Linked DNA regions of Homo sapiens. The protein of the gene in region 1 interacts with the protein of each later gene in a pairwise test. Each region holds a gene or a part of one and is shown on either strand. Other genes may lie near its edges.

What was found.
Region 2: the proteins of SGTA (region 1) and MYOC interact in binary tests that used the Homo sapiens proteins (3 or more experiments, as listed by UniProt).
Region 3: the proteins of SGTA (region 1) and FSTL1 interact in binary tests that used the Homo sapiens proteins (3 or more experiments, as listed by UniProt).

What each region holds. Positions count from the first base shown.
Region 1 is NC_000019.10:2,762,661-2,766,309, forward strand, and holds part of SGTA (small glutamine-rich tetratricopeptide repeat-containing protein alpha), read right to left. Parts: intron 2,626-3,649; coding exon 2,526-2,625; intron 1,098-2,525; coding exon 993-1,097; intron 1-992. UniProt on the Homo sapiens protein: Co-chaperone that binds misfolded and hydrophobic patches-containing client proteins in the cytosol. Mediates their targeting to the endoplasmic reticulum but also regulates their sorting to the proteasome when targeting fails.
Region 2 is NC_000001.11:171,650,583-171,654,331, forward strand, and holds the start of MYOC (myocilin precursor), read right to left. Parts: upstream 2,107-3,749; 5' UTR 2,030-2,106; coding exon 1,426-2,029; intron 1-1,425. UniProt on the Homo sapiens protein: Secreted glycoprotein regulating the activation of different signaling pathways in adjacent cells to control different processes including cell adhesion, cell-matrix adhesion, cytoskeleton organization and cell migration.
Region 3 is NC_000003.12:120,402,477-120,406,125, reverse strand, and holds part of FSTL1 (follistatin-related protein 1 precursor), read left to right. Parts: intron 1-1,154; coding exon 1,155-1,273; intron 1,274-2,771; coding exon 2,772-2,884; intron 2,885-3,207; coding exon 3,208-3,318; intron 3,319-3,649.

The DNA.
Region 1 (3,649 bases):
GGGATGGACTGTTCCCATCTGCCCAGCTCCAGGAGGCCCCGCCAAAGCCCTCGTCCCCGGCGGTCCTGGCAACCCCCAAACCACCTCGGATGGTGCCACCCCCTGCCCGCTGTCAGCTCAGTGGAGACAAACCTGGCTTTCGAGGGGCCCAGGGGCAGGACTGAGGGAGACAGACATGAGAACACCCCTGCCACACAAGAACTGGAGTCCCCATGGGGCCACACACAGGGCCTCAAAGCCCAGAGCGGGCTGAGAGGAGGGAGCGGGCCAGCTCAGGGTCACAGGAAATGCGTGGATGTTGTCTTGGCCCCGCTTCCCGGCACAGGGCACCAAGGACCCTCGGAACCTCTGAGCGACAGACATGTCTCCCGTCATCCACAAGCAGCCCCTGACCCCCACCTGAGTGAGTCTTCACTCGTGAGGTGACTCAGGGCCCCTACAGAGCCCAGGAGGAGGCGGGTCCTGGGGAGACTGGGCAGTTGAACAGGGCCCCTCCCCAGCCTCTGGGGAGACCCAATCCCACAAACTCTGAGCAAGGGCATTCAGAGAAGCAGGCGAATGCACGCTTATGCTGGGAGGGCGGCACCGGCTGCACGGGGCGCAGGCTCCTGCCCCGGGGACCCTCCTGGCCTCACTCTCGGACCTGTCCTGTGTCCTTCATCATAAACCAGGTGCTTCCCTGAGCTCTGTGAGCCGCCCCAGCAAACAATGGAGCCTGAGTAGGAGCCATGGGAACCCCAGGTGACAGCCAGTCAGGGAGAAGCAAGGGGCCCAGGGATCTCCGGGTGGCACCTGATGCGGGGCGTCTGTGGGGCTGAGCCTGTGACCTGTAGGGACTACGTTGGCTCCGAACAGCTAGTGTCAGAGTTGAACTGAACCGGGGTGGGAGAATTCGTTGTGGGTGGGAAAAAAGCCACACAAGAGAGGAAGCAGGAGCAGGAGAGGAGGGGTCCCGAGAGACTGGAAAGGCGCGGCCGTGGACAGGCACTCACCCCATCCTGCCGTAGGCCTTGCTGTAGGCCGGGTCAATGCAGATGGCCCGCTCACAGTCCTGCACCGCGCCTGCGTAGTTGCCGAGTTTGCTGTAGGCTGCGGCTCTGGGGAAGAAAAGGCAGGGCAGGTCCCTCACTGGCGGCTCTGAGCCCAGCGGGCAGCCCTTGAGGGGAGCCTGAGAGCTGCGTTCCTCTCCAACTTCCTGGAGGAACGGCCTCAGTTTTCCCCATCTGTAAAATGGGGCTGATGGGGAAAGCTGAGAGGTGTGGCCACTGAGATGCTCTTAGACAAATGTGGGCTCAAAGCACCAGCAGCCACTCAGGACTGCGACTCTGAATTTTATTTGCAAAAAATGTTCCGATCCATGGCTGTACAAGAGCAATGAGGGTAGGGAACTTATACCCAAGTTTCATTCACAAATTATTTACATATCAGTAAAAAAAGAACTCAGACCAATGTCAAAGCTCAAAGCTCTTGGCTTACAGCGTCTGAATCGTCTTCACCATTTTCGTGTTTAGTGTTTCTCTTTACAATTTTTTCAAAGTACAGAGAAGAGTGAGTGGAGACTAAACTACCCCATGACAGGCGGCCAGGAACCCTGCACTGCCTCTGCAACTGTCCTGTAAGCCTGAAGCAGATCCAAGACCACACATTCAAAAAACACAACCCTCCACATACTGGATTATTTTCTTGGCTTGACATCCACGTGGAATGCCATGATACCTGATTTTCTATGTATGTATTTATGTATTTATTATTTTTGAAACAGGGTTTTGCTCTGCTGCCCAGGCTGGAGTGCAGTGACACGATCTCAGCTCACTGCAACCTCTGCCTCCCGGGTTCAAGTGATTTTCCTGCCTCAGCCTCCCAGGTAGCTGGGACTACAGGCACCCACCACCACATCCAGCTAATTTTTGTGGTTTTTTTCGGGGTTTTTTTGAGACAGAGTCTCCCTGTCACCCAAGATGGAGGGCAGTGGCGCAATCTTGGCTCACTGCAACCTCTGCCTCCCAGGTTCAAACCATCCTCATACCTCAGCCTCTTGAGTAACTGGTGGTGCCCACCACTACACCCGGCTAATTTTGTATTTTTAGTAAAGACGGGGTTTCACCATGTTAGCCAGGCTGGTCTTGAACTCTCAACCTCAAGTGATCCCCCCCGCCTCAGCCTCCCAAAGTGCTGGAATTACAGACGTGAGCCACCGCGCCTGGCCCCCAGACTAATTTTTACATTTTCTGTAGAGACGGGGGTCTTGATATGTTGCCCAGGCTAGTCCCGAACTCCTAGCCTCAAGTGATCTTTCCCCCATGGCCTCCCAGAGTGCTGGGCGTGCTACCTGATTTTAAATCAGCATCGACTCTCCCCGACCCCGTTGCTGGTCACCTGATGCTCGCTCCTGGTCTGAGACCACCGGTGAATGGATCCCTCATCTACAGCGCAGAGGCCTCTCCCATCTCAGGTCCCTGCTAAGCATCCCGGAGGACGCCCCCGCACCCGGCCGCCCCTGCCCTGGGCAGGCCCTGAGCTGGTACCTGTTGCAGAAATAGACGGCGTTGGCTGGGTTGAGCTCGATGGCTTTTCCGTAGAAATGCACGGCAGCTTCAAAGTTTTCCACTTTCATCTGCTCGTTTCCTACAGGGAGAGAGGAAAACACCGGCCCGGTGTCCACACAGACCGGAGGGGGTGTCAGGGAGAGAGGAAAACACCGGCCTGGTGTCCACACAGACCCGAGGGGGCGTCACACTTGGCTCTTCTGGGCAGCCAGGACTCAACACAGATGCCGGCTCAGGAGGCATCTGCATCTATAGGGGGTTCGCTAGTCGCAAACAATCATATCTACATCCACTAAGGGGGATGGAGGTGGGGGCGGCAGGGCCTGGCCTGGCCTGTGCCTGGCGACGGTGGCTGTCACTGCCTGGATGGCGACCCCGGGAGCAGAACAGTTAATACAGCTCACCGGCCCGGGGACGGAAACTGTCCCTTTCGCTATTGCTTTTGGAAAGAGCCCAAGTGGAGGCCTGTATTTTGGAATACTCATGTGATACCTTCTCATTTCATAGGCAATGGGGCTTCTATCTGAGGCATGGGTCCCAGCTGGTAGGACGGTAAAAACCCCAGCTGCTATCCTAGAACTGAGAGCCCTGAAGACAGAAACCCACTCCCGCCCCCGAGATCCCAATTCAGGAGGGCGTGGGGGGAAGATGGGTATCAGCGTGTGTTTCCCTAAACAGTTTTATTGAGATATAATTTACATGCCACAAAGCTTACGCTTTAAAAATATAAGCCCGGGCGCGGTGGCTCATGCTTATAATCCCAGCACTTTGGGAGGCCGACGCAGGCGGATCGCAAGATCAGGAGACCAAGACCATCCTGGCCAACACAGTGAAACCTGTCTCTACTAGAAATACAAAAATTAGCCGGGCGTGGTGGTAGGCTTCTGTAGTCCCAGCTACTCAGAAGGCTGAGGCAGGAGAATTGCTTGAACCAGGGAGTCAGAGGTTGCAGTGAGCCGAGATCACGCCACTGCACTCCAGCCTGGGCGACAGAGCGAGACTCCATCTCAAAAAAGAAAAAAAAGAAATGGGATCACATGCTGTGCGTCCTTTTGTGTCTGGCCTCTCTCCCTGAGTGTGATGTCTTCACGGTGCATCTGCGC
Region 2 (3,749 bases), on another chromosome or scaffold:
TTGCCCAAGGTCATCCCCAGGCTCTGGCTCTTAGGTTTTCTAACCCCATAGCTATGAAGAGCTTGCCTTTCACGTAGAAGGCTCTTTTTAGGAAATATTTTCTCATAATTTTAAAGCTTTTCAAGCCTATAGAAAAACTGAAAGAATAGTACAATAAGCTCCCCATATACTTAGATTCACCAGTTTGTAATTCACCAGTTATTAATATTTTGCCACAGTTGTTTTACCTTTCTTTCTCTCATTATCTATATATTTGCAGTCTTTCTTCAACCATTTGAGAGCAAATTGCAGACATCCTGACGCCTCACCCTGGGTACTTAAGCATGTATCTCCATAGAACAAAGATTTTATCCTTCGCAACCACAGTATCATTATCTCACCAAGAAACTGAACATTAATACAGTAACATAATAATGAGCAGTCAAATTGCCTCAGTTATCCCAAACCTGTTCCTCATAGCCTTTTTCCCCCTTGGATGAAGACACCAATCAAGACTCATGCACTACATTTGGTTAACACATTTCTTTAGTCTCTTTAATATAGAACAAGCCCTTCCCCACCCCTTTTTTCTTTCTTCCTTGGCACTGACATCTTTGACCAGTCCAAACTAATTGTCCAACAACTGGATTTGCTTGCTTATTTCCTCATGATTAGAACACTTCCTCAACAGGGAATATTTGGGAGCCCACTTTCACAAAAAGTGACACAAATACCATCTTCCCAGCTAATAAGAAGACCTCCCCCAACACCTCACCCCCGCACCCCCCCCACACACACACAGACTCACCTTTAGGCAAGAAGGGACCAGGATGAACAGAAGAGCCTCTCAGAAAAAGCCATCTCAAGAATTTGTCTGATGACTTAAAAGCAGAGGTTCTCAGATTGGACTGAGTAAGAAAACTTTCAGAACAACATATTAAGAAAACTGACAGAGAGGTGCCATCTCTTTATTTTGCCAGGGAAGAACATTTAAAAATAAACAAAAACTTACCACTTATTATCATTTCCCAAATCTATTGTAATTTCATAAATAAAGGTCATTTTAACATCAAAAGGTACAAATAACAATCTGAGCAAAGGTTCAAAAAAGGATAGTTTTTCAAAAGGGACAATTGACAACTTTCTACTGCTCATATGCAGACACATCTCACCCGGTCCTTTTATTTCTCCTTTTGCTATGGACTGTGAAAACTGACATGGAGGGGCACAAGAACTCTGAACCACTAATCTAAATGAAGCTCTCAGGAGCTAAATTACTAGTAATACTTGAAGGTGATCGCTGTGCTTTCCTTAATTCATCTGTCTTGTGCTAGCTGTGCAGTCTCTAGGAGAAAGGGCAGGCAGGGAGGCCTGGAGCGCCTGTAGCAGGTCACTACGAGCCATATCACCTGCTGAACTCAGAGTCCCCCCACTCTGCATTCTTACCTTCTCTGGAGCCTGGTGGCACAGCCCGAGCAGTGTCTCGGGTCTGGGGACACTGGCCCCTTCTCAGCCTTGCTACCTCCTGGCTGCTGCTTTCCAACCTCCTGGCCAGATTCTCATTTTCTTGCCTTAGTCGCTTCTTCTCTTCCTCCAGAACTGACTTGTCTCGGAGGAGGTTGCTGTAGGCAGTCTCCAACTCTCTGGTTTGGGTTTCCAGCTGGTCCCGCTCCCGCCTCAGGGTGCCCAGCTCCCTCTGCAGCCCCTCCTGGGTCTCCTGGGGCCTGGCAGCCTGGTCCAAGGTCAATTGGTGGAGGAGGCTCTCCAGGGAGCTGAGTCGAGCTTTGGTGGCCTCCAGGTCTAAGCGTTGGGTGCTGCTGTCTCTCTGTAAGTTATGGATGACTGACATGGCCTGGCTCTGCTCTGGGCAGCTGGATTCATTGGGACTGGCCACACTGAAGGTATACTGGCATCGGCCACTCTGGTCATTGGCCTTCCTGAGCTGAGCTGTCCTGGCCCCCACATCCCACACCAGGCAGGCCAGAAGCAGCAGCTGGACAGCTGGCATCTCAGGCCCAAAGCTGCAGCAACGTGCACAGAAGAACCTCATTGCAGAGGCTTGGTGAGGCTTCCTCTGGAAAGCTCTGCTGTGCTGAGAGGTGCCTGGATGGGTGGCCTTGCTGGCTCATGCCCGAGCTCCAGAGAGGTTTATATATACTGGGGAGCCAGCCCTTCATGGGGGAAGACAGAGGTGGCCACGTGAGGCTGGGTGGGGCTGTGCACAGGGGGGTTGCCTTCACGCTGCCAGCAAGATTCTTAGAAAATAACCTTCCAGAAGTCTGTTTGGAGTTTCTTTTTAAAAAGAACATCCCAATTTATGCACCCATACCCCAATAATAGTTCCTATATCTCCACCTGGTTTTACACACACACACACACACACACACACGTACACACACTTACACCAGGACTACTGGTGTGCTGATTTCAACAAGGATATATTTCTAGTTTATATTTCCATTCACTCTGCAAACTCATTGAGAACCTGCACTGTGCCAGGCACTATGCTAGGAACTGGAGATCCAAACAAGTCCTTTAAGACGTAGCAGGGACAGAGAAAAATAACAGCCAGCCAGAACACAAGGACAGCACCCTACCAGGCTCCAGGGAGAGCATTCCTATAGAAGCGGCAGATTTCCCCCCTCACCCCTAGCTTTAAAACAACTGTGTATCTTTGGGAGAACTTTCTAATTTCAGTCTTGCATCTCAGGCACCAATGTCAATGTTAGCCTCTAAATCAGTTCTTACTCTGTGTGTGTGCATGCCAAGAACCTCATTGGTGAAATCTGGGGAACTCTTCTCAGAAAGATGTTTTCAAATATATAAAATATAGATTACAAAGGAAACAAATGATAATGAAATATGATTATCAAAATATCAAAATTTTAAACATGTTTTATTAATATGTTAAAAACAAGATCCAGCAGGAGGTCTAATTTCAAAGTAGTTTTGAGTATAAATATTTCACTTACAACGTATCTGCAACAACTGTAATATAGTATAAAATGTCTGTGATTTCTATTGGTAATGACAAAATCACAGGTACTGTTATTACCACTTTGAGTTTATGGCTCTATTCGCAATGGAATAAAATGTTAAATTTAGTTAGAAGGTGGTAAAAACAAAAATGTAATTTTTTCCTCATTCAAATTCACAGGCTTTCTGGACTGTAGGTTAATAATCCCTGCTTTACATTAATAAACCCAAAGAGAAAAAACAAAAAGCAAATGGCAATAGCCAATAAATATACCAAAACTGTCAGAAGTAACTTTAAGCCACTTGAAATAATGATTGCCTTTGAGCAACTTTATGTTGTTAATACCAACAACAGTGTCAATACTTGTGAAGTAAATATTTCCAAACTGCCCTGGCAGACTCACCTCCAGAGTGGAGAAACACAGTTTGCTCTAAAGATTCTATTCTTATTTGATTGGTTCTGCAGTTAAGCCTGAACTTGAGACATTTACAAATGGGTGTTTGTTTACAGCTGACCAAAGGGTACTAGTCTCATTTTCTGAATCAGATAGTAAACATCGCTGAAATGATTTTTCAAAAAACCAATCATATAGTCAGCAAGACCTAGGCTTGAATCTGTTTGGCTTTACTCTTAGGAATGTTTTCTTCCTGTTAAAAGAAACGGGATTGCCCTTGTGCTGCTAACTCCACAGAGAAAAAGAGTTCCTAATAAGGAGAAACTAAGTAATCTTACAGCCTCAGTTACTACCTTGTGACTTGCTCAGAATTACTCAGCTTGTAAAGGAAAAATATAG
Region 3 (3,649 bases), on another chromosome or scaffold:
CATGCACACCTTCATTATACAACATTAGAGTGGAACACCTGTGACACATGGCAAGCAGGAGAGGAGAGTTGTTAGCTACATCTTCCCCTTCTATCTAGAAATTTGGATAGATGTTTCTTCCAGAATCCCTTGCACCATCTGGGGAGCCATCTTGAAAGTAACATGGGGAAGCTGATCCTTTCCCAGGGCAGCAGCATGAGGGAGCCTAGGGAAAGGATTTGGGAGGAAGGGGGAAAATGTTATTGAAATTTGTTAGGAGAGCAGCCATATGCAACTTGGAATTTGATCAGTCTTGATTTGACACCCTCCTCCTGCAGCTAGTGCCTGGGTGTCTTGAATGGTCCCAGATGGCTGAGGTCTCAGTTTAGCATCTTGCCATAGAGAACAGTGTGTGAGCTTACTGCACTCCTCACTTTGTGCTTGTGGGATGCCAGCTGGGTCATGAGGGCAGCCTGAGCTGGATGATCTGAGGACCTGTGCACACATCTGCAGTGGGGCCCACAGGGCAGAGGAGCGGGAACTTTGCATGATGACCCCTGTCTGTAGCTTATTGCTTTGAGGCCTTTGCCTGAGTTCTCACTGATGTGATCAGTTACGGGCACCAAAGTGAAAGTTAAGCACTGAGAACAGGACAAGGAGGCTGGAATCAAGCAACAAGATTTGGAATCCTATAATTCCAAAGTGAGCTCAGAGGGTCATCTGCATTGCTGCTGTTCCTGAGCAGCTCATTAGAAACATATTCTGGGACCTGCTACAGAGATTCTGATTCACAGCGTGCAACTTTAAACTCTTGTTACATGTTCATCAGGGCTTGAGAACATGATGTGCAGGTTGGTCTGAACCCAAAGGTATAGTCAAAAGTGTCTACAGGGCAGTGTCAGAGATGGGGCCACACAGCATGCTTAGGGACCCCAGAGGCCTCAGTTCAGGTTGCCTCCTCTGCCCAGGCACTTTTCCTCTCTCATTGTGGGCACAGGTACCTTCTCTGCATGTCCCAGGGATTAGAGCATTTGTTGCCAAGGCCCTCTGAGGTCAGGGCAGGGTTGGAATGTATCAAGAACAAGATGAATCAGAGGCAGGTCAGCTGAGTGGAGTAATGATGGAACAGGGGTTCTGCAAAACATCCCTGAACGATCTTGTCATGCCCTTTCTAGAACTTTGATAATGGTGATTCTCGCCTGGACTCCAGTGAATTCCTGAAGTTTGTGGAACAGAATGAAACTGCCATCAATATTACAACGTATCCAGACCAGGAGAACAACAAGTTGCTTAGGTGAGAGGAACCGAGAGGTCAGAGAATGATCCACAAGGGAAGACTAACTGAGAGAGGGGACTTAAACCCTTTCCCACCTGCAAAAGAGCCACCAGTGAGAGAATGTCACGTAAAAAGCAAAATGGGAATTCTGTCCTGTTCTATTCTATGAAAGTATGAATTAATATATTGAGTACCACTGATATCTAATCAAATAGTTATTGTTTTTGGTCAGAACTTGCAAGGACTAGAAGAATATAATTTTAAAATAAATTGCCAAGGGCACGTCAGAGCAAGTTATTTCTGAATGTTGTGGGTGATGTTTTACTGATTAATTTTCTGAAGGAATTACAGTAATGTATTATTTAACTATAGGTCTAAAATAGCTTTGTTCTGATTTTTAGATAATTAGTGCTATTTCATGTCAATTGCCCTAACTGTTACAGATATATGCCCGTCTACTTTTATGGCATTATTCCAGAATCAATATTAATAAAAACTAATCGCTAAGAAACTTTTGATGTGGTTTCAGCACATCGGTAAGAATTAAAAATAGGAAAAGCATGTCTTTTTTTCAAAAGAAGTGCATTGCACAGTTTCTAGAAGGATTCTTCTTTAATAATAGTCTATGACCTTAAAGTATAGGTTCTGTAAATCCTTCATATTTTGATAATCTGAAATTATATGTTTTATAATTTCAACGTTTGAGCCTCATGATATCCCAGTGAAGGAGGGCTTCTTGTCCTCCTTTTACGGATGGGAAGACAGGCTCAGAAAAGTTGAATAACTAACTCAAGTCCATTTGAGTAGTAAGTGATTGAGCCAGGGCTCAAATACAGCCCAAGAAAGAAGTGATGGAGCTGAGTTTTTTTTTGTTTGTTTTGTTTTTTGTTTTTTTTTGTTTTTGTTTTTGTTTTGTTTTGTTTTTGTTTTTTTTTTTTTTTTTTTTTTTTGAGACGGAGTCTCGCTCTGTCGCCCAGGCTGGAGTGCAGTGGCGGGATCTCGGCTCACTGCAAGCTGATGGAGCTGAGTTCTAAAAGCTTTTCTGAAAATCTCTTTCTAGAAGGATGATAATGGTGATTCTTGCTTGAACTTCATATTCTTTCAAATCCTATATTCCTTTCATGTCATCTGTCATATCTCTTCTGTTTTGATTTTCCTAGTTTGGTTGACTTGACGTGTATATACCATGGGGAAAAGCAATTGCTAGTGGAAGGTATGCAGGCAGTGAAAACATTAGACAAAACCATTCACGAAACTTTAGTCATCTTAAGGGGGGGAACATTTGGACAGCCTGGGTGATCTGACATTCATATAACAAACTAAAGGTTAGATGCCTGCATTGGTCAGGATGGATAATAGTTGTGTTGGGTCAGTGTAGAGAGAGGCTGTTTTAGTTAGCAGTCATCTTCTTGGCCTCCTGTGGAGGCCCTGGGTGTATGTGGTCCTGATGCTTACTTCCTTTCTTCTGAGCGAAGCTGAGGTCTTGCTAACACATTTCTCCTGTGTTTTGTTTCAGGGGACTCTGTGTTGATGCTCTCATTGAACTGTCTGATGAAAATGCTGATTGGAAACTCAGCTTCCAAGAGTTTCTCAAGTGCCTCAACCCATCTTTCAACCCTCCTGAGAAGAGTATGCCTAACCTAAGAAATAGAGAGCTGTAGTGAATGGAGGCATTTTGTAGGAGCCAAGATAGAGAGGATTGGTGGAACTCTCCAGAGCTAGCTGAGAAAATCCCCTTCCATGATTCTAAACTGGGCCCCAGCCCATTCTCCCCATGGTGAAGTTAGGGCCCCACATTCTTTAGGTTGATGGTAGTGTTTGCTCAGATATAGTGCTTCTGAGGGACAGGCAGGTCTTGTCTGGGAAAAAAGGGTAAGGTGCACAGACTGTAGCAAAGATGCCCTGTTCCACCCTCACAGCTAAACTGTTGCCCCGTATTTCTGGCCCAACAGAGTGTGCCCTGGAGGATGAAACGTATGCAGATGGAGCTGAGACCGAGGTGGACTGTAACCGCTGTGTCTGTGCCTGTGGAAATTGGGTCTGTACAGCCATGACCTGTGACGGTGAGCTGTGCTTCAAGCAGAAAGAAAAAACAGCAAGGAGAGAGCTTCATGAAATCAGCATGAGAGAAGTTGGGGTGGGGATGATGGAGAAGAGGGCGGTGGCTGGGAGCAAGGAACCCAGGCAGACCCACACCTGTAAGGTTGGAGCCCCAAGTGGGGAGCTTTGAGGGCAGAACATTTATCCCATAGGCATTCAGTTTGAAAATCACTCCAGAGGCTTGGAATAAGAGAGGACCAAGACCCTGGGCAAAAGTAAATGATAATGGAATAGTAACATTATGGAAATAGTAACAGTGAAAGTAGTAATAATGGAATAATAATTAAAAATAGT